Linked DNA regions of Homo sapiens. The protein of the gene in region 1 purifies or fractionates together with the protein of each later gene. This does not show direct contact. Each region holds a gene or a part of one and is shown in the gene's direction. Other genes may lie near its edges.

Region 1 (10,363 bases):
TGGGAGGCACCTTCGTGGGCTGGACATCAGCAGAGGACCCAGGGCTGGGGCCCTAGAAGCCTCTCTGTGACAGGACGTGGTCAGCACATCAAACACTCCCTCCCAATTTATCTTTTTTATACATCCCCATTAGCGCATGCTGATCTGGGGAAACAGCCTGTCCATGACTTCCCTTCAAATGCAGAATTACAGGAACCGGACTTGAGCAGGTCTTGCTCTGAGCATCCCTCCAGTGCCCTCTGAATGCCCCGACCCCAATCCGACTCACGCTGCAGTTGTTTTATTTATTTAGTTAGTTATTTTTGAGACGGAGTCTCGCTCTGTCGCCCAGTCTGCAGTGCAGTGGCACGATCTCAGCTCACTGCAACCTCTGCCTCTCGGGTTCAAGCAATTCTCCTGCCTCAGCCTCCCAAGTAGCTGGGATTACAGGCGCCCGCCACCACGCCCGGCTAATTTTTGTATTTTTAGTAAAGACAGGGTTTTGCCATGTTGGCCAGGCTGGTCTCGAGCTCCTGGCCTCAGGTGATCCGCCCGCCTCGGCCTCCCACAGTGCTGGGATTGCAGGCGTCAGCCACTGCGTCTGGCCGGTTCTTGTATTTTTAAATTCAGGTAAAAGCTGAAGACGTTTTCTTCTTTGAAAGCACAGGAACCACAGCCCTGTGGATTTTGCGAGTCGCGGGGCTCCCGGAGCCGCTGGGAGGGCAGCCGTGTGAGATGCGGGGCTGCGAGCGTGGAAACACTCGCAGTCGCCAGTGCTGAGGCATGTTTCAGCCGGGGCGGAATCACATGCATTAATTATTGTACAGAGATGTCTTTAGTAGAAAATGATTTTGAAATTCAGTTTAATTTCATTGTAATGTGCTGCAAACAGGAAGGGAGTATGTGTGTTTAATTGGCTCTCGGGGGTAAGGCCTGGAAGCCGCATGTCTTTGTCACAGGCCATTAGCGATGCTGCTGCATAATGAGAGCCTGCAATCAGCTCACAGCTGCCGCTCCTGCCGGGAGAGCATGATATTAAATAGAAATCAGGAGAAATTAAACTTAACCCTTTCCCTGGCCAGCCCCTCCTGCCACACGGATTCTGGCATAAGCCGGCGGGCACAGGGGACAGCCAGGGATGGCTGGACACAGCTGAGGATGGCCGAGGCCGGCCTGCAGCTCCCCAACGGCCTCCTCCGGGTCAGGATGAGAGGAGAGGTTGCCAGCTTTGATGCCAGCCGCTCCTGCCTCCCCCACCTGCCTCTGTGCCTACAGCCCGCTTCTGCCTCAAGATCACACAGCGGGCTTGTGAGGCCAGGGGTCTCCGCTGCTGCTCAAGGAGATGGCAAAGGTCTGTTTCAGGTAACTCCTCTGACGGCCACAACGATGTCTTCAGACGTCAAAGGTCTGTCTCAGGTAACTCCTCTGACGGCCACAACGATGTCTTCAGACGTCAAAGGTCTGTCTCAGGTAACTCCTCTGACGGCCACAATGATCTCTGCAGATGCTCTGACTCCACGTGCCCTCGCTCAGAGACACACGCGCACATTTGCCACCTGGGGCGAGTGGAAGGTGACGTGGAGGTGGGCACCTCTGCCGGGCAGATGCGGGAGCAGCAGCAGCAGCAGCCCCTCCTGGGGGCATCCAGGGGTCAGGAGAGGGGCGGTAGGGCAGGGCGGCATCCCTGCAGGGGTGAATGGCGTCTTAGGCTCCAGCCGGGTGAGGAAACCTGATAACCGAACTCCTTAGAGAAGAGCCAGGGATCCCGGGAGGACCACCAGGAGCTTGTGGGGAAGGACTGAGGGGAAGAGCCCCAGGTCTCGGGAGGACCACCAGGAGCTCACGGGGAAGGATTGAGGGGAAGAGCCCCGGGTCTCGGGAGGACCACCAGGAGCTCACGGGGAAGGATTGAGGGGAAGAGCCCCAGGTCCCGGGAGGACCACCAGGAGCTCACGGGGAAGGATTGAGGGGAAGAGCCCCAGGTCTCGGGAGGACCACCAGGAGCTCACGGGGAAAGATTGAGGGGAAGAGCCCCAGGTCTCGGGAGGACCACCAGGAGCTCACGGGGAAAGATTGAGGGGAAGAGCCCCAGGTCTCGGGAGGACCACCAGGAGCTCGTGGGGAAGGATTGAGGGGAAGAGCCCCAGGTCCCGGGAGGACCACCAGGAGCTCACGGGGAAGGACTGAGGGGAAGAGCCCCAGGTCCCAGGAGGACCACCAGGAGCTCACAGGGAAGGATGGGGAGAGGGGAGTGGGGGGCTGGAGAACCCCCAGACTGAGAAATTCTGCTCGGAGCGAGAAGGGAGCTGGGCCCAGGTGGCCCCATCCCCCAAGGTTGAACATCAGCCCAGCCTCCCAGGCCCTCCACGTGCTCATGGGCACCACTGCCGGGCACTAGCTTACTTGTCACCCTGTCTGAGGCGTGTTGGGGTAGGAGCAAGAGTCCGCTGCTTCCAGGGCCCAGCTGGGGCTCCATGTGTCCCTGGGCACCCCAGAACCCTCTGGGTCTCAGCCGTTGGGTTCTTACATCTGGGCCAGTGGCAAAGGGTTAAAGGGACCTTGTGACTTAGTTGGGACTCACTGGCCTCAAGAAGCGAAAATCAGAGGGACAGCAGCCCCAGCCGCCGGGGATTCCCTGTGGCGCCAGAGCTCCCCGGCAGGCACTGTGGAGGCCAAGTGGGGACCGGCAGTGTCGTGGTCCCGGCCCACAGCCTCTCAGCCTCCCACAGCCTCTCCCTGTGGTAACGAGGTGGACGCTGAGCCCCAGGCCTGATGGCACATTTGAGGTCAGGTGGGGGCACCTGGGCTGTTCCTGTAGCTGTCCCCTCGTCCAGGGGAGGGACCTTTTCAGAAGCCCTGGGGCCTTTGTCTCATTGACCAAAACCCTCCTGGCCATGCTGCCTTCACAGGACACTGGGCATCTCTGTGGGGCAAGGGAAGGAACACAGGCCTCCTGGTGGGGCCCCAAGACCCAACCAAGGCTCGTCTGGCTGGTGCCAGCCTCTGCGCCAAGGGTGCCGACCAAGGTCAGAGCCGATCGCGGGGATGACAGGTGCCGAAATGGCCATGCTTGCCCCAGCCCCTTTCATCCGGCAGAGGGACCTCGCTGGGCCTGCCACGCTCAGCCAGGCTGTGCTGTGAAGCCCCTCTCTTCCCTTCTCAGAGCCATATGTCCACGCTGACAGCTCCTGAGAGGGACCATGTTTTGCTGCCTGCAGGTGCCAAGCTGACTGATGGGCCATGCTGAGGAGGGTGCCCCAGCCCTCCTGCAAGATGCCCTTCTGTGCAGCCTGCAGGGCCACCAGGCCCACGAGGCGGCCATGGTCTTCAGATGTGTCTTAGCCTGGGTTCCCTAGAAAACACATGAGGACTCTGGGCAGAGGCTGAGTGTTTTTACATTTTTATTTTTAAGCCAAAGTTACACACCTGTGGCTTAAACACCCAAGTAGTTGTAGCAGTTTGAGAAGAAGAATCACAGCCGTGCCCCTTCCCCAGACTCGCCGGCTGCTGCTTCTGTGCGGTCCCCGCATCCCGAGGGCCGCCAGCACCGCCACCTCCAGGCTCCTTTTTGCTGCCATGGCTTGAGTCCCGCAGAGGAGGCCCCTCCTCAGGCACGGCCCGGCTCAGTCCCGTATGGCATCTGCACTATTGAGACTATGGAGTCGCCGCTGAGAACTGAGCCCAGGAGACACTGAGGTTTTTCCTCTTTCTTTGTTTTCCAGAGTCGGGAAAGTCTTGGTTTTCTTGGTCTCCTGGTGCCAATTCCTCGTGGGCTGGGCTGGTCTCCCCATGGCGCCTCCTTCCCCATCACCACCACCCCTTCCCTCCTACCGGGTCAGGACGTCGGCTCCCAGCCCACAGCATCCTCGTCTTCCCTCTTCCGCCCCCAGCTGTGGGGACTGCTTTCCCCTGGGGCTTCCTGAGGCGGGTGTGTAGGGTCCGTACTTGGAGACTTGCGTGTCTCTCCGGGTCTTCGTTCTGCCCTCAGCCTTGCTTGTCGGTTTGGCTGCGTATAGGGTTCAGGGTTAGAAGTCGCTTCTCTATCATTTTCTGGCCTTCAGATTTGCTGCTGCCACAGCCGTGCTGAATCCTGGCACTTGGTGACCCCCTCCTTTTTTTTTCTGTTTTTTTTTTTTTTTTTTTCGAGACAGAGTCTTGCTCTGTCGCCAGACTGGAGTGCAGTGGCGCCATCTCGGCTCAGTGCAACCTCCGCCTTCCGGGTTCAAGCAATTCTCCTGCTTCAGCCTCCCGAGAGTAGCTGGGATTACAGGCGCCCACCACCACACCTGGCTGATTTTTGTATTTTTAGTAGAGACGGGGTTTCACCATGTTGGCCAGGATGGTCTCGATCTCCTGACCTCGTGATCTCCCCACCTCAGCGTCCCAAAGTGCTGGAATTACAGGCATGAGCCACCGCACCCAACCATGACCCCCTCTTTTTAACGTACAGGGTGTCCTCTGTCCCCAGACCCCTGAGCCCAGGTTGAGGAGCCACCAGCTGAGGACGGAGCCAAGGTCACGGAGCTGCCGGGTGAGCGCTGAGCCCAGGTCAGGGAGTTGGGTCTCAGGCCGTCACTGGGACTCCCTCTGCCTTCAAGAAGCCTCTTTCACCCTTGGCCCACAGAGGAGACCTGGATGGCACTGGGGTCCAGGTGCAGAAGCCTCCAGTGTCCACGGGCACCTGAGCTTCCAGCACCTTCCCTCCTGCTGGGCGGTGGCCTGTGCCTGGCCGCAATGGAGGCCGCCTTCCCCACTGCCCCTCTGAGCCTCAGTCTGTCCTCCCTGCAGCCACCTCCCCTGGCCAGGTGCCCCGGGGTAACTGGTGGAGGCTTTCACGTAACTTGGTTTCCAGCTGCCTCTGTACACACACAGGCACCTGTTCCAGGCTTGGCCTCTCTGTACACACACACGGGCACCTGTTCCAGGCTTGGAGGCTGAGAACTTGGGGGCAGAGATCTCAGGGCATCGGCTTGGGCGGGGTCCTTGGGCAGGGCCTTGGGCTTCCCTCGGCACTTTCCTCAAGGACTGGGGCCAAGCTTCACATTCTGTTGCTGGCATCAGTGCCATTTGGGAGCAAAAGTCCGACAGGCTGGGTCTGGGCCTCTCTTCACCTTGTTTCCTGGGATCGCGCTTTGGGTGCTGGTGTCACTCCAGATCCAGGCTCGGGAACCACATCTGCACAGCAGAACAGGCGCTGTTCTTATCTTGCGTGCGGGTCAGGACATCCCCCCGGCCAGGAGTGCTTCCTCCGAGGCCCACAGACAAGTTCTCGCTGGGGGACTGGGGACCACAGCACCTCACTCCACCTACACTCTAGAGAATTCAAATCTGAGTATTGGAAGATTTATTTTCAGTTACAGTGGAAGGCAGAGACATGAAATAGCACCAAATTCAAAAGCAGCTCATAAATCCAGGTAATAGGAGTTTATTGATTGCTACATTGTATCTGTCAGAAGAAAACTCCTTTAATGAACACATCAGGCCGAGGACATACACAGCCCATTGGCAGCCGACTCCGATTCCAGAATCGATGCATTTTGATAAATAGGTTGTTATGGAAAGTAAAGGTTATTTAACTTGTTTGACTTGCATTTCACAGTGATCGCAAGTTGCCCTGGAGCCCTCTGAACCTTCTGAGTCGCCCTCGCTGCCGCAGGACCTCCTCCCGCGGGGTGTCCGACCCGCTCTTGCTTGGCTGAGACTTTGTTTAAACCCTGGCTCCGATGCCTCTGAGCCCTTGATAGCAGCGTCCCAGCCTGGAAGAACAAAACCAGCCACTTTTCCCCTTGGCAAAGGCACAGCAAGGCGGGTGAGGCGGGCGCTGAGTAGTCTGGGAATGGGCAGGGAGATGTCGACCCTCGGAGCTGAGACTGCTCTGTGCTGAGAAGCTAGAACAAAGCCTGACATGTTCCAAGGGGCAAGCTCAGGGCTGGGAGGGAAGCAGCGGGGCCGCCCCTTTGGGTGGGGGTGCCCAGGCCTTGCAGACAAGACACTGGCCAGAGGAGGTGGAGCAGGGGTACTGGGGCAGAGGGGCCATGTTTGTGCAGCAGGATGGACCCTGGAGGGCCCCGGCCTAGAGGGGGCCTTTGCCAGGAAGATGCCAGGAACGTCCAGGCCAAGGCGTCCGGGCAAAGGCATCCAGGCCCGGGAGACGCATGTGGGACTTGGGCTTTCCTCTGTGGGCAGTGGGAAGTCTCTCCCTACCCCTGGAAGGAGCTCCAGGCAGCAGTGAGGATGGGGATTCTGACACTGGAGTGGGGAGCCGGCCCTGTGGTGCTGGCTGGGCTGAGAGCGGCACCACCTTCTGATGCCCAGGGTGGGAAGGACACACGACTGCCACCATGCACTGAGGGCCCTGCACGCCACACACGTGCTCTGAGCACTGAGGGTCCCCTCATGCCACGCACAAGTTCTGGGCACAGAAGCACCTCTCAGAATCATCCCCGAGACAGGCGTCCATCACAGAGACAGGTCTCAGTCCTGCACTGATTGGCTTCGCCCAGTGCTGCTGGGGGAGTCTCAGACACAGCCTTTTTCCGACAGGTATAGCTGCCACTTTCTCCGGCACAGAAGCCTGGGGCCCTGGGAATGGCACCATGTTGCGCGCCGACCCCTACGGTTCTTCCCTCCGCATGGCTCAGTGGAAACCGTGCGTGCAGCACAGCAGGCAGCTGGGGCCTGTGACGACCCTGGGGTTGGAGGCCAGGCAGGGCTATCACTGAGAAGCAGGGATTTGGGGCCTGGGGCCCAGGGAATGGACAACTCCCCAAGCTGCCCCCACCAGTCCTTCCTGAGCACTGGCTCTGGAAGAAGCATCTCGGGGCAGAGGCAGCCAGGCCCAGGCAGGGAGAGACCCCCAAACAAGGCCTACAGCAGGGTCTCAGGGCCTGACCATGCCAGAAACAGCCCAGAGCCAGAGAGGATGGGCAGATACTCAGTGCCACCACTCCTGGGAGATCTCAGCACCAGGGCTTCGACCTCTGGGGATACACACCCACACCTGCTGAGATATAACACATCTGCAGAGACACAGCCACGCCTGCAGAGACATACCCACACCTGCAGACACACCCACACCTGCAGACACACCCACACCTGCAGACACACCCACACCTGCAGAGACACAGCCACACCTGCAGACACACCCACACCTGCAGACACCTACACCTGCAGGCACACCCACACCTGCAGACAGAGCCACACCTGCAGAGACACCCTCACCTGCAGAGATACAGGCACACCTGCAGAGACACAGCCACACCTATAGACACACCCACACCTGCAGAGACACACCCACACCTACAGAGACACCCACACCTGCAGACACACCCACACCTGCAGACACACCCACACCTAAGGAGACGGGGTCTCGCAGTGGGCGGAGAGGTTGGGTCTTGCATCTAATCAGCCATTGATGGGCCTCTCCTGTGAAGGGCACTCATTCCTTGTATTCATAAATTAAGCTCATGTGAGTTTGTTCTTTAACAAGTTATTGCGCGATCATAATCCATTGCCGACGTTGGCGTGACTCACCATGTCATGAGCCCACTCGGGGCTGGTGCTGCTGGAGATGGGGAAGAAAATTGCTCCATAAACCAAAAAGCAACATTTTAAAACTTATAAAAAAGATTCGCAGGAAATTAGAAATAACACACAGGGGTTCCTTGTGCCGTCCCCCCAGTTTCTCCCAGCATCAGCCTGGTGTGTAACGGTGGTACATCCTCAGTGCCGTGCGTAGCTTTGGTGCAGTCTCAGCCCCGTGCGTAGCTGTGGTGCAGCCTCAGCCCCGTGAGTAACTGTGGTGCATCCTTGGAGCCAGGACACAGGCAGCTCAAGAGGGTGCCGGGGACTTGTCAGCCTTGGGGGCAGGCAGTGATGGCCTCTCCGGCAGGACCAGAGCAGGGCAGTGGCTCCATGCTGCGCTGGGTCTCTGGGTGGTGCAGGCCAGGGTGGAGCCAGGCCAGAAGCTGTATGGAGGGCCCTGAGCACCTGGCAGCCTCCCTGGTGTCAGCAGCTGTGGCATCCGTGGGGCAGGAGCAGCCTGGACGGGGTGGCTCGGTGCGATTAAGAGATGCTATTGGAAGATTGGTGGCTGTCTGGTCCAGAGGGGACACACAAGCCAGGCTGCACAGCAGGAGCAGGAGCCATGGCGGGTCCCACGGGACTTGGGACAGGCTGTGTCCAACCCCGCCCACAGCCCAACCTGCACACCCCCTTCCAGCCGCCCAGACTACCCCAGGGGCGCAGTGAGACCACTCTCCTGTCGGGGAGCCTCTGGTTTTTCTGCTACCCATCAGCACAGAGTTCCAGAGTTCCAGAGCTCCATAAATAAGCCTGGAGCCCACCTGGGCACACCCATCCGTCTTGTTTAATAGACTGAGGAGCACGCCATGGGTCTCAAGGAGTGGTGAGGTGGATGGATGGGGCCTTTCTGCGTCCAACAGCATGATGTATAATGAAGTATTTATGATTTATTCCAGCTAATAACCCATGTGGAGTGCAGGGTATGTGGAAGCAGACAGTTGAGGCCTCAGCACTGCCCTTACATGCCCTGCATGCTCCCACAGCCACGGCACACATGTGTGCGTGCACATGCTCACAGTCACGCATACCGCGCCCTCCCAGCTGCACACACGCTCGCAGGCACGCACACTATGGGCCCATGCGTCATGAGACAGCTTCGGGCTGGGAGTACAGGCTCTGAGGCTGCAGCCCGCTCTTCCCGACTCCCCACCCTCAGTGGCTGGTGGTGTCTGTGTTGAGCTACTCGAGAAAGGAAGAAAACGAAGGAAGCTTGGTTCCCACAGGAGCTCCAGGAACTGCACGGGGAGGAGCAAGGGCCACGTCGTGGCTTTGCCTTAGGAAGGAAAACGTGGGGCAGCCCCGGCCATTGTTCTAGGACCAGCATGGTCAGGTGTGGAGGGCACAAGATGGGCACCAGCAGGAGGCTCCAGGCACCCAGGAAAGGCCCTGTCCTCCTCAGCCACCAGCCCCTCCCTGTGGCCTCTGCGTGGGCCTTGGTGCCTCTCCCATCCAGAGGGGCTGGGCATTCACTGCTGGAGCCCACCGTGGTGGGATGTTGTAATGTGTCTGGTTCACTTCTTTTACTGAATATTTGGCCTGGATTCTTTTGTGGGCCTGAGAGAAATGGCAGGACAGGGCCTGGTGGGCCTCGGCCCCTCTCCCAGAGCAGCCTGCCTGCATGAGGGGCGGCCCCTCTATGCTGCAGTCCCAGGGGCTCCGTCTGGGGGCCCTTGCAGCAGTAGCAGCACAGCCAGGAGGCCCAGCACACCCTGGCACCCATCCTGAGGGAGGGTAAAGCATCAGACCCTGTGCTTGTTGCTCAGAAAAGGCCACGCATCCCACCCATGGCCAGTGGTTATCAATCACTGTCACAGAAACAGGGCCTGAGCCGGCTTCCTAATGCAGGGTGTCTGCAGACCACAGGCCCAGCAGGGCTTCTGGCACCTCCTGCTCCTGGCAGGCTCTGGACCCACTGCTGACCTGCCCCTGGAGGAAGTGCATACAGCTGAGCATGGGGAAGGGACCCCACAGGAAGGGCAGACCCCACATCATGGGCACAGTCCCACCTTGGGACGCACGTCGTGACCACCAGGAATGTGGGCTTACCTGGCATAGCTGTTTCTCCGTTGGGGTTGCCACAGGGTAGTAACCAGAGCCCCCTTTCCTCAGAGGACACCGTGGTGTTTAAGGACGGCCAGTTAACCAGAGCCCCTTTTCCTCAGGGGACACCGTGGTGTTTAAGGATGGCCAGTTAACCAGAGCCCCTTTTCCTCAGGGGACACCGTGGTGTTTAAGGATGGCCAGTACTGGATCCGAGGCCGGACCTCAGTGGACATCATCAAGACTGGAGGCTACAAGGTCAGCGCCCTGGAGGTGGAGTGGCACCTGCTGGCCCACCCCAGCATCACAGGTGCGTGGCCGGACTTGGGCCAGGGAGGCCAGGCTAGACGGGTGCTGCCTTCCATGTTTGAGTTTTAGACGACTGCAGATGAGTCGACGCCGTCCCAGCTGCCTGCAGGGGTCCCTGTGATGCTCACCTCTGGTCCCTGCCCTGGCCAGGGAACATGGGGCTAGTGGGGGTGCAGCCTGCTCGGTGTTGGAGCCACTGACCCCGTGCCCACCAGAGCTCCCAGGCCTGGCCGGGCGCAGCTCCCATCTGCATGATTCCCCTGCAGGAAGGTGGCAGGGAGAGTGCAGAGAGCCAAGGGGCGGGAAGGCAGAGCCCCTGTGAGTGCCCAGTCCCCAGATCCACCGTGGGGAGCCCGTCCTCACTCCCCTCCCCACAGGCCCAGCCAGCACCAGGACGAGTGATTGGAGTGGGGCCTGTCCAAGGACGGGCTCCAGGGCTGCGGCCAGACTG
Region 2 (10,635 bases), on another chromosome or scaffold:
CAAGTATCTGTTCCTGATGCTTTTCGGGTTATAGGAGGCCCTAGAAAATTGGATGAGGCTGGGCGTGGTGGCTTATGTCTTTAATCCCAGCACTTTGGGAGGCCGAGGCAGGTGGATCACTTGAGGTCAGCAGTTCAAGACCAACCTGGCCAACTTGGTGAAACCCCATCTCTACTGAAAATACGAAAATTAGAGCCAGGTGCGGTGGCTCACACCTGTAATCCCAGCGCTTTGGGAGGTCAAGGTGGGTGGATCAGCTGAGGTCAGGAGTTCGAGATCAGCCTGGCCAACATCGTGAAATCTCGTCTCTACTAAAAATACAAAAAAGTTAGGCACGGTGGCTCACACCTGTAATCCCAGCACTTTGGGAGGCCAAAGCGGGTGGATCACCTGAGGTTGGGACTTCGAGACCAGCCTGAGCAACACGGAGAAACCCTGTCTCTACTAAATATACAAAATTAGCCTGTAATATACAAAATTAGCGTGTGGTGGCGCATGCCTGTAATCCCAGCTACTCAGGAGGCTGAGGCAGGAGAATCGCTTGAACCCGGGAGGCGGAGGTTATGGTGAGCTGAGATTGCACCATTGCACTCCAGCCCGGGCAACAAGAGTGAAACTCCATCTCAAAAAAAAAAACAAAAACAAAACAAAACAGGCTAGGTGTGGTGGCTCACGCCTGTTAATCCCAGCACTTTAGGAGGCCGAGGCGGGTGGATCACGAAGTCAGGAGATCGAGACCATCCTGGCTAACACGGTGAAACCCCGTCTCTACTAAAAACACAAAAAAATTAGCCGGGCGTGGTTGCGGCACCTGTAGTCCCAGCTACTCGGGAGGCTGAGGCAGGAGAATGGTGTGAACCCAGAAGGCAGAGCTTGCAGTGAGCCGAGATGGCGCCATTGCACTCCAGCCTGGGCAACAGAGCGAGACTCCGTCTCAAAAAAAAAAAAAAAAAAAAAAAATTAGCTGGGCAGGGTGGCGGGCGCCTGTTATCCCAGATACTCAGGAGGCTGAGGGCTGAGGCACTAGAATCGCTTGAACCTTGGAGGCAGAGGTTGCAGTGAGTTGAGCTCTTGCCACACTGCACTCCAGCCTGGGCGACAGAGCAAGCCTCCGTCAAAAAATAAAATTTGTATGAAACTCCTCTCCCAGAAACAGACATAAGTACACACAAAATGTAGAAATGATTTCTGAAAATTTCTTTTTTCTTTTTCTTTTTCTTTTTTTTTTTTTTGAGACAGAATCTCGCTCCGTCGCCCAGGCTGGAGTGCAGTGGCGCGATCTCAGCTCACTGCAAGCTCCACCTCCCGGGTTCACGCCATTCTCCTGCCTCAGCCTCCCGAGTAGCTGGGACTACAAGCGCCCGCCACCACACCGACTAATTTTTTGTATTTTTGGTAGAGACGAGGTTTCACCGTGTTAGCCAGGATGGTCTCGATCTCCTGACCTCGTGATCCGCCCGCCTCCACCTCCCAAAGTGCTGGGATTACAGGCGTGAGCCCCCGCGCCCGGCCAAGAATTTCTAAAGGCTCCTTCACAGACCCCAGCTGAGGAAAATTATGAAGTCCTGCAACAAGGTATTCGGGGCTCCTTAAGGGAGTGTGTGGTGACTGGAAGGATGGTATAGTTTACAGCAGAGGTGCTCAATCTTGAATATGCATCAGAATCACCGGGGTTGCGGGGGGGGGGGTCTTGATAAACCACCGTTTGCTGGGTCCCACTGCCAAGTCCCCGACTCAGTAGGTCCAGGGAACTGCATTTCTAACCAATTATAATAAATTCCAGGTGATCTTGATGCTGCTGGTCCAGGGACCATTCTTTGAGAGCCTGTGTGGGGAAATGAGAGAACTGGATATAACCCACATTTTCAGAACTCGAGACAAATCCTATTAGTAAATTTCACTGGAAAATGTTTCTCCCACTTACTAGGTATGTGTTGTTAGGCAAGTGTGTCTTTAACTTTCCTAAGTATGCTTTCGTATCTATAAAATAAGGGTGTTGGCCGGGCGCGGTGGCACACGCCTGTAAGCCCAGCACGTTGGGAGGCCGAGGCAAGTGAATCACGAGGTCAGGAGTTCGAGACCAACCTGGGCAACATGGTGGAACCCTGTCTCTACTAAAAACACAAAAAATTAGCTGCACGTGGTGGCAGGCGCCCATAATCCCAACTACTCTGGAGGCTGAGGCAGGAGAATTGCTTGAACTTGGGAGGCGGAGGTTGCAGTGAGCCGAGACCGTGACATTGTACTCCAGCCTGGGCGACGAGAACAAGACTCCATCTCAAAAAAATAAAATAAGGGTATGGCTGGGCATGGGTGGCTCATGCCTGTAATCCCAACACTTTGGGAGGCTGAGGCAGGAGGATCACTGGAGCCTAGGAGTTCAAGACCAGCCTGGGCAAAACAGTGAGACCCCATCTCTTTTTTTTTTTTTTTCCTTTGAGACAGAGTCTCCCTTTGTCACCCAGGCTGGAGTGCGATCTCAGCTCACTGCAACCTCCACCTCCTGAATTCAAGCGATTTTTCTGCCTCAGCCTCCCAAGTAGCTGGGATTACAGGCACCTGCCACCAAGCCTGGCTAATTTTTGTATTTTTAGTAGAGACGAGGTTTCATCATGTTGGCCAGGCTGGTCTGGAACTCTTGACCTCAAGTGAGTGATCTGCCCACCTCTACCTCTCAAAGTGTTGGGATTACAGGCGTGAGCCACTGCACCCAGCCAGTGAGACCCCATCTGTACAAAAAATAATAATAAATAAAATAAAATAAGGTTAAGGAATCATTATGAATCTTCCTGTAAACATCAAATGAGGCCATACACCCTAAGAATACAGCTCACAGGTCCCTACTGAATGTGACAGTTTAGTCCAGATGGGAGTTCCCTGAGGGCAGGAACGGAGTTTCAGCAACTGGTCCCCATGGCAGGTTGGAGTATGCACTAACCTAACATTTACTGAAATTTCAAAATGTGCTGGGTAAGGCTGGGCGCGGTGGCTCACGCCTGCAATCCCAGCACTTTGGGAGGCGGGGGTTGCAGTGAGCAGAGATCGCGCCACTGCACTCCACCCTGGGAAACAGAGCAAAAACTCCGGCTCCAAAAAGAAAAAGAAGTGGGAGGGCTAGGCCCGGCGTGGTGGCTCACGCCTGTAATCCCAGCACTTTGGGAGGCCGAGGCAGGCGGGTCACGAGGTCAGGAGATCGGGACCATCCTGGCTAATACGGTGAAACCCCCGTCTTTACTAAAAATACAAAAAAAAATTAGCCGGGCGTGGTGGCAGGCGCCTGTAGTCCCAGCTACTCAGGAGGCTGAGGCAGGAGAATGGCGTGAATCCGGGAGGCGGAGCTTGCAGTGAGCCGAGATCGCGCCACTGCACTGCAGCCTGGGCGACAGAGCGAGACTCCGTCTCAAAAAAAAAAAAAAAAAGAGGTAGGAGAGCTTAATATCGGGCTGGGAGGATGGGGTGGAGTAGGGTGAGCGAGGCGTCAAGTTCGATTCCTAAAAAGAGTAAAAGGGGAGCCTCAGTGAGGTTGGGGAGCAGGCCTCGGCTCCAAGATGAACCAGCACCCTCCCGACCCCCGGCAGCACCCCAGCCCCAGGAGTCCTGGCAGCCCCACCGACAGAGCTGAGCTGTGACCAGCGGTCGGAGCCACATGGTCACAGCCGCCACCAGCATCAACATCAGCATCGACTTGGGCTTCCGCCGCCACCACTGCCCCTCAACCGCCACGGGGAGTCGCTGCACAATCCGAGTACGTGCAGGCTGAAGCCCTGCGCATGCGCATCAATGAGTCCCGGGAGCGGGCCTCCGCGCACTGCAGCCCGGCGCTCCGCCTGAATCTTGAGCATGCGCAGACGAATCCCGGGAAGCCCGAATCCGCGCACCCCAAAGTGCGCTCAGAGCCTGAGTATGCGCACCCGGCCACCCGTGGCCAGTCTAGAGTCTGAGCATGCGCATGTTGTCCGCGCGCCTAAGCATGTGCACAGGCTGCTCATGAGTTCCTAAACGTTGCGTTTGCAACACTACCAGTGTTTTGTACGGGCGCTGGCGCCTGCTCACAGCCTTCCACGTGACCGGAAAAGGCCTTCAGCGCATAAAGTGGGAGACCGGAAGAGGCGGAGACGATCCGATGCTCGAACTCCGCCCCCTCTTCTCCGCGTAGGCCCAGCTCCCTGAAGCGGCTGTTTCGAGCCACGCGCCCATCGGGTACCGAGGCACGCGCCGGGCGTCACGTGCGTTTCGCGGCGAGCGGAAATGACGCGAGTTGTGTGAGCCGCCAGTATGGCCGGGCTATGGCGGCGAGCACTGGCTACGTGCGACTGTGGGGAGCGGCGCGGTGCTGGGTGCTGCGGCGGCCGATGCTGGCCGCCGCCGGGGGGCGGGTTCCCACTGCAGCAGGAGCGTGGTTGCTCCGAGGCCAGCGGACCTGCGACGCCTCTCCTCCTTGGGCACTGTGGGGCCGAGGCCCGGCAATTGGGGGCCAATGGCGGGGGTTTTGGGAAGCGAGCAGCCGCGGCGGAGGCGCATTCTCGGGGGGCGAGGACGCCTCCGAGGGCGGCGCGGAGGAAGGAGCCGGCGGCGCGGGGGGCAGCGCGGGCGCCGGGGAAGGCCCGGTCATAACGGCGCTCACGCCCATGACGATCCCCGATGTGTTTCCGCACCTGCCGCTCATCGCCATCACCCGCAACCCGGTGTTCCCGCGCTTTATCAAGATTATCGAGGTAATGGGAGTCCCCGCCTCGGCCTCAGGTTTCCCACCTGTGCAAGCAGCGGGCTGAACCGTGGGATCACTTGAGCGCCCTTGTGTTTCGCAACTTTTTCAGACATGAAGTTTCTCGAAGGGTGCAGTTCGAATCCTTGTCTGCTCACCACTAGCTTGGGAACCTTGAGCCAAAGTCCTCTCCCTTTCGGATTTCTTAGGATCCGTTAGATGAGAGGAGTTGAACCCGATGAGCCTAGGATTATCCACTTTAGAACGCCGGTCATAGAAATCCGGGGCCGGGAGGGACCTGAGTAGTGTTACGGCGCTGTTAGTTTTCTCCTTACTTGGCACGAGTTTTGTAATACCTCCTCGCCCCAGGCGCTCTGCCGTCTGGTTACGAGCCTCACTGGGATCAGAATTCATTCCTTTCTTAGACAAATACTTCTTGATTGCTTATTATTTGCCAGAGAGTGTTCTAGGTTCTGGGGATATGGCAGTGAACAAAACAGACAAAAATTTCTGCCTTTGAAGCTGGGCATGGTGGCGCGCGCTGTACTCCCAGCTACTCTGGCGGCTGAGGTGGAAGGATTGTTGGAAACCTGGAGTCCAGCCTGGTCAACATGGCGAGACCCTGTCTCTTAAAAAATAAATCTGCCTTGGAGCTTACATTTTGGCAGGATGAGACAGGCAATAAAGATGTTTAGTAACGATATTGTATTAGAAGGCAATAATTACGAGAAATAGTAGAGCATGGATGGGACAGGAGGCTTAGGAGGGTGGGAAGAGGTGGGTTATTCAGTGTGTTCTTGACCTCCTACCACGTAGCAAGTTCTGAGAATACTGTAGAGAACAAGTCATTCCGGTGGTAGAAATTAGATCATTTCAGACTAAGAGCCTTGGGGGTGGGGAGGGAGCAGGATGATGTAATAGAGAGAAAGCAGTGAGTGTAAGGAACTTGAGCTTTTACAGTAGGAAGGCCCCAAAAGCCTTCTCCCCCAGCTCCCCTTCCCTTAAAAAAAAAAACTACTGATGTGGAAAGTGGCATCTATGGGAAGGTTATCTCCTAACTGGCAGAGCAAGGTCACGCAGTGAGTCAGCCTCTGCGCTCACTCTCCAGACTCTTCTAAACAAATCTCAAGGATCTGTTGGGAAGGGAAAGGCCATTTCAGAGGGGCAGCAGCCAGTAGAGAGGGGACAGAGGGAGCTTCTCCAACGCTGCTCCAAGATTTTTTTTTTTTTTTTTTTGAGACCAAGTTGCACTCTGTCATCTAGGCTAAAGTGCAGTGGCGCGATTTCAGCTCACTGCAACCTCTGCCTCCCGGGTTCAAGTGATTCTCCTGCCTCAGCCCCCTGAGTAGCTGGGATTACAGGCGCCCGCCACCGTGGCTGGCTAATTTTTCTATTTTTAGAAGAGACAGGGTTTCACCATGTTGCCCACGCTCGTCTCGAACTCCTGACCTCAAGTGATTCACCCGCCTCAGCCTCCCAAAGTGCTGGGATTGCAGGTGCGAGTCACTGCGCCCGGCCCCAAGGCCTTTCCTTGATGTTGAGTACTGGTTACTGATGCAGGCCCCCAGAGCAAGACCTTGTGGGGTCCTATCCTAGCTCCATAACCTTCAGCAAGTTATTCCTTTGGCTTCCCTCTTCTCATCTGTGACCTGGACATATTAGTGTCTTATTAGAGTTGTTGTGGGATTTAAATGAGGCCATGTGGGCTGGGCACGGTGTCTCACATGTTTAATCCCAGCACTTTGGGAGGCTGAGGCAGGAGCATAATTTGAAACCAGTATGGTCAACATAGACCCTGTCTCTACAAAAAAAAAAAAAAAAAGAAAGAAAGAAAAGCCGGGCACAGTGGCATGCACCTGTCTTCCCAGCTACTTGGAAGGCTGAGGCAGGAGGATCACTTGAAACTGGGAGATCAAGGCTGCAGTGAGCCATGGTGTCACCACTGCACTGCAGCCTGGGCAACAGAATGAGGCCCTGCCTCAGCAATAACGTGATGCTGTTTCCTCTTTGGTGTACTTCTGACATTTCAGGACTCTGCCCCGGAGGCCTTTTTCCCATCCTTGACTTCACCCCTGGCAGTTCTCTTTACCCTCCCAGGTTTCTGGGCCCAGGATGGTGTTCATCAGGCCTGGTCCCCTCCGTTCTGCAGAGCGACAGATGCCCCTTGCTCCCGGTGCCTGAGCAGAGAGATGATTCTTCTAAGAGAGTTCAGACGGCCCACGTGGAGCTAGCCAGGAGAGTTAAATGAGTGGCTGCAGATAGTATTTGGGAGACTGGCAGGTGGTTCTCATTGTATTTCTGGTTGATGATGCATTGTAAATCATAAAAATGGATCCTGCCAAGGCCAGGAGGCAGATGCCAAGGATGCAGCTATCAGCTGTTGGCAGAGGGGAAATTGGGAGGCAACTTCTTTGGGACCCAATAAATGTTTCTGAAATTGTTAGCAAAGCTTGATTTACTCTTCAGTTTGTACTTGACTTGTCTGGCCAACTTGCTCTAGAAGCTTCTCTCCTATTAGCAACTTTTGAGTAAGGAACAATGGCTCTTAATTTTTGGTGGGTATTAAAGAATAAATCATAAGTGTTAGAAGTATTAGTTTCTTTTAAAAACTAACTTCGTGGGCTGGGCGCGGTGGCTCACGCCTGCAATCCCAGCACTTTGGGAGGCTGAGGTGGGCGGATCACGAGGTCAGGAGATCGAGACCATACTGGCTAACAAGGTGAAACCCCGTCTCTACTAAAAATACAAAAAAATTAGCCTGGAGTGGTGGTGGGCGCCCGTAGTCCCAGCTACTCGGGAGGCTGAGGCAGGAGAATGGTGTGAACCCAGGAGGCGGAGCTTGCAGTGAGCTGAGATCGCTCCACTGCGCTCTAGCCTGGGCGACAGAGCAAGACTCTGTCTTAAAAAAAAATTGCTTCCCTCCTTTGTTCAGGTGTGCTCTGCTCTCGCCATTGTTCCATCTGCGAGGAGCACCCTTTCTTCAGAAAGTAAAATTGTCTTGCTAAGAAAACTTTTTGTCCAAATGCTAATTTTTCCTTACAGTACAGAGGTACAAGCGTTCTGTCTCTAAACAAACATTTTACTTATAACAGTGGGTCACACACCCTCCTGTCAGATGTTACTGACTTTTTTTTTTCTGGGAACAGAAAAAAAAAAAATTATGTATCTATAGTGTCAGGAATTTCTGGACCACAAGTTAAGAGCCTGTGTTAGGGAGTGAGTCAAAACACTGGCTCTCAAAGGATGGTTGTGGACCAGCAGCATCGGCATCATGTGATGCTCTTTTGTTTGAAATGCAGATTTTTGGACCCACCCTAGAACTGAATCAAAAACTCCAAGGGTGGGGCCCAGCAGTGAGCTGCTTAAAGTCCTTCAGGTCATCCTGGTGCCTGCAAAAGTTTGAGGGCCATTACTATATATATATATATATATATATATATATATATATATATATGTATATTTTAACTTTATTATATAATAAAGAATTAAAAACTTCAAAAAGAAAATAGAGATGGGGTCTCACTGTGTTACCCAGGCTGGTCTCAAACTCCTGGGCTCAAGCGATCCTCCCACCTCAGCCCCGCAAAGTGCTGGGATTACAGGCATGAGCTACCATTACCAGGCTAGCCAGGCCATTACCTTTAATCAGGGTCTGTCCAGTGAATTAACAAAGGCTTGAAAGAAATCAGGTGAGCTCCTTGCGCCTTCAAATGCTTCTTAGAAGACATCATTAGCCCTGAACCTGCCGTTGAGAATGTGCTGTGATCCTGGGGGTCTTGATCATTAATGAACAGCATATGATGTGATAAGGAAGTAACTGTCAATGAAAATTGGAGGAACCAGGCATGGTGGCTCATGGCGAAACTCCGTCTCTACTAATAATACAAAAATTAGCGAGTGCAGTGGCGTGTGCTTGTAACCCCAGCTATGTGGTAGGATGAGTTGGAAGAATCGCTTGAACCTGGGAGGTGGAGGTTGCAGTGAGCCGAGATTGCACCAGTGCACTCCAGCCTGGGTGGCAGAGTGAAACTTTCTTTTTTTTTTTTTTTTTTTTTTTTTTTTTTTTTTTTATGAGACAGAGTCTCACTCTGTCGCCCAGGCTGGAGTGCAGTGGCGTGATCTTGGCTCACTGCATGCTCCGCCTCCCGGGTTCACGCCATTCTCCTGCCTCAGCCTCCCGAGTAGCTGGGACTACAGGTGCCCGCCACCACGCCCGGCTAATTTTTGTATTTTTAGTAGAGACGGGGTTTCACCGTGTTAGCCAGGATGGTCTCGATCTCCTGACCTTGTGATCTGCCCGCCTCGGCCTCCCAAAGTGCTGGGATTACAGGCGTGAGCCACCGCGCCCAGCCTGAAACTTTATTAAAAAAAAAAAAAAAAGGAAGTTATCAATCTCTGGAGTGGGTCACATTTAAATTACTTATGTTTATTCTGACATTAATAAAAGCAGAATGGTTTTGATTTTCAAACCAAGACAGTTTGCCCTGGACATCCCCTTTGAAGCTGGATGTTAAATCAATTTCTGGGTTCTGACCATTCGTCTACTTTGAATTTCCTTTGGGAGTGGGGAAACCGCTAAGAAGAATCCAGCTGGTCAGTTCTGCTCACTGTATTCACCACCACAGCCTCCTGGCCTCCAGCACTTTTTTTTTTTTTTTTTTTTTTTTGTTTAGGCGTTCCCAAACCATGTTGATTAGTATCCAGGATGCGGATCAGCATGTCCCCAGAGAATAATCTACACAGCGTTAGAGCGGCTCTGCTGTCAAAAAATGTCAGCTACAAAAGCTACCCTGGGAGGCCGGGCGTGGTAGTTTACGCCTATAATCCCAGCACTTTGGGAGGCTGAGGTGGGTGGATCACGAGGTCAGGAGTTAAAGACCATCCTGGCCAAGATGGTGAAACCCCATCTCTACTAAAAATACAAAACAATCAGCCGGACCTGGTGGCGGGCGCCTGTAATCCCAGCTACTCAGGAGGCTGAGGCAGAGAATTGCTTGATCCCGGGAGGCGGAGGTTGCAGTGAGCTGAGATCATGCCACTGCACTCCAGCCTGGGTGACAGAGCGAGACTCCGTCTCAGAAAAAAAAAAAAAAAAGAAAAGCTACCCTGTGCTGCGTTTGGTGGCTCACGCCTATAATCCCGGCATTTTGGGAGGCTGAGGTGGGTGGATCACCTGAGGTCAGGAGTTCGAGACCAACCTGGCCAATATGGTGAAACCCCATCTCTACTAAAAATAAAAAAATTAGCCAGGTGTGGTGGTGCATGCCTGTAATCCCAGCTACTCAGGAGGCTGAGGCAGGAGAATCCCTTGAACTCAGTGGGGGTGGAGGTTGCAGTGAGCTGAGATCACGCCATTACATTCCAGCCAGGGCAACAGAATGAGACTCTGTCTCAAAAAAAAAATCTACTCTGCATTTCACTTTGGGGTCATTGTCATGCTAGGTTAAAAATAAGAAGTTGGTTGAGCTGCTGAGAAGGAAAGTTCGTCTCGCCCAGCCTTATGTCGGCGTCTTTCTAAAGAGAGATGACAGGTAAGTGTGATTTTTCCTTCATTCCCTTGTTGACGGTGCCCTAGAGTCCAGCTCACCACAAGTCCTACTCTGTACTTTGCACCTTTGACCCCTGACCCCGAGGAAACCAGGGAAGACCTCCAGAATAAAGGCCAGAAGCCACGCAGGCTACCTTTTCAGCCTGGGCTGAGAACTCAGCTTGTAGTACTAAACTTCATGCATTGTTAAGATACGGGGGAAATTAACTTCAGGGACTCTTAGTGATGAAATGCTCCATGAGGCTACCTGAAAGTCGAGCTAGCTGCTCGGAGATGTGGCTCCATGTAGAAATGAGTTCCATGGGCCGGGCGTGGGGTCGCACACCTGTAATCCCAGCACTTTGGGAGGCTGAGGCATGTGGATCACCTGAGGTCAGGAGTT

What was found.
Region 2: the proteins of ACSF3 (region 1) and LONP1 purify together in Homo sapiens (co-immunoprecipitation; 2 studies listed by BioGRID and IntAct, with this or other methods). This does not show direct contact.

The regions. Positions count from the first base shown.
Region 1 is NC_000016.10:89,135,489-89,145,851, forward strand, and holds part of ACSF3 (malonate--CoA ligase ACSF3, mitochondrial isoform 1 precursor), read left to right. Parts: intron 1-1,059; exon of another isoform or gene 1,060-1,341; intron 1,342-5,578; exon of another isoform or gene 5,579-5,788; intron 5,789-9,725; exon of another isoform or gene 9,726-9,778; coding exon 9,779-9,913; intron 9,914-10,363. UniProt on the Homo sapiens protein: Catalyzes the initial reaction in intramitochondrial fatty acid synthesis, by activating malonate and methylmalonate, but not acetate, into their respective CoA thioester. May have some preference toward very-long-chain substrates.
Region 2 is NC_000019.10:5,713,784-5,724,418, reverse strand, and holds the start of LONP1 (lon protease homolog, mitochondrial isoform 1 precursor), read left to right. Parts: upstream 1-4,272; 5' UTR 4,273-4,286; coding exon 4,287-4,715; intron 4,716-10,147; coding exon 10,148-10,236; intron 10,237-10,635. Other genes in the region: CATSPERD (cation channel sperm-associated auxiliary subunit delta), read right to left, coding at 3,611-3,681. UniProt on the Homo sapiens protein: ATP-dependent serine protease that mediates the selective degradation of misfolded, unassembled or oxidatively damaged polypeptides as well as certain short-lived regulatory proteins in the mitochondrial matrix.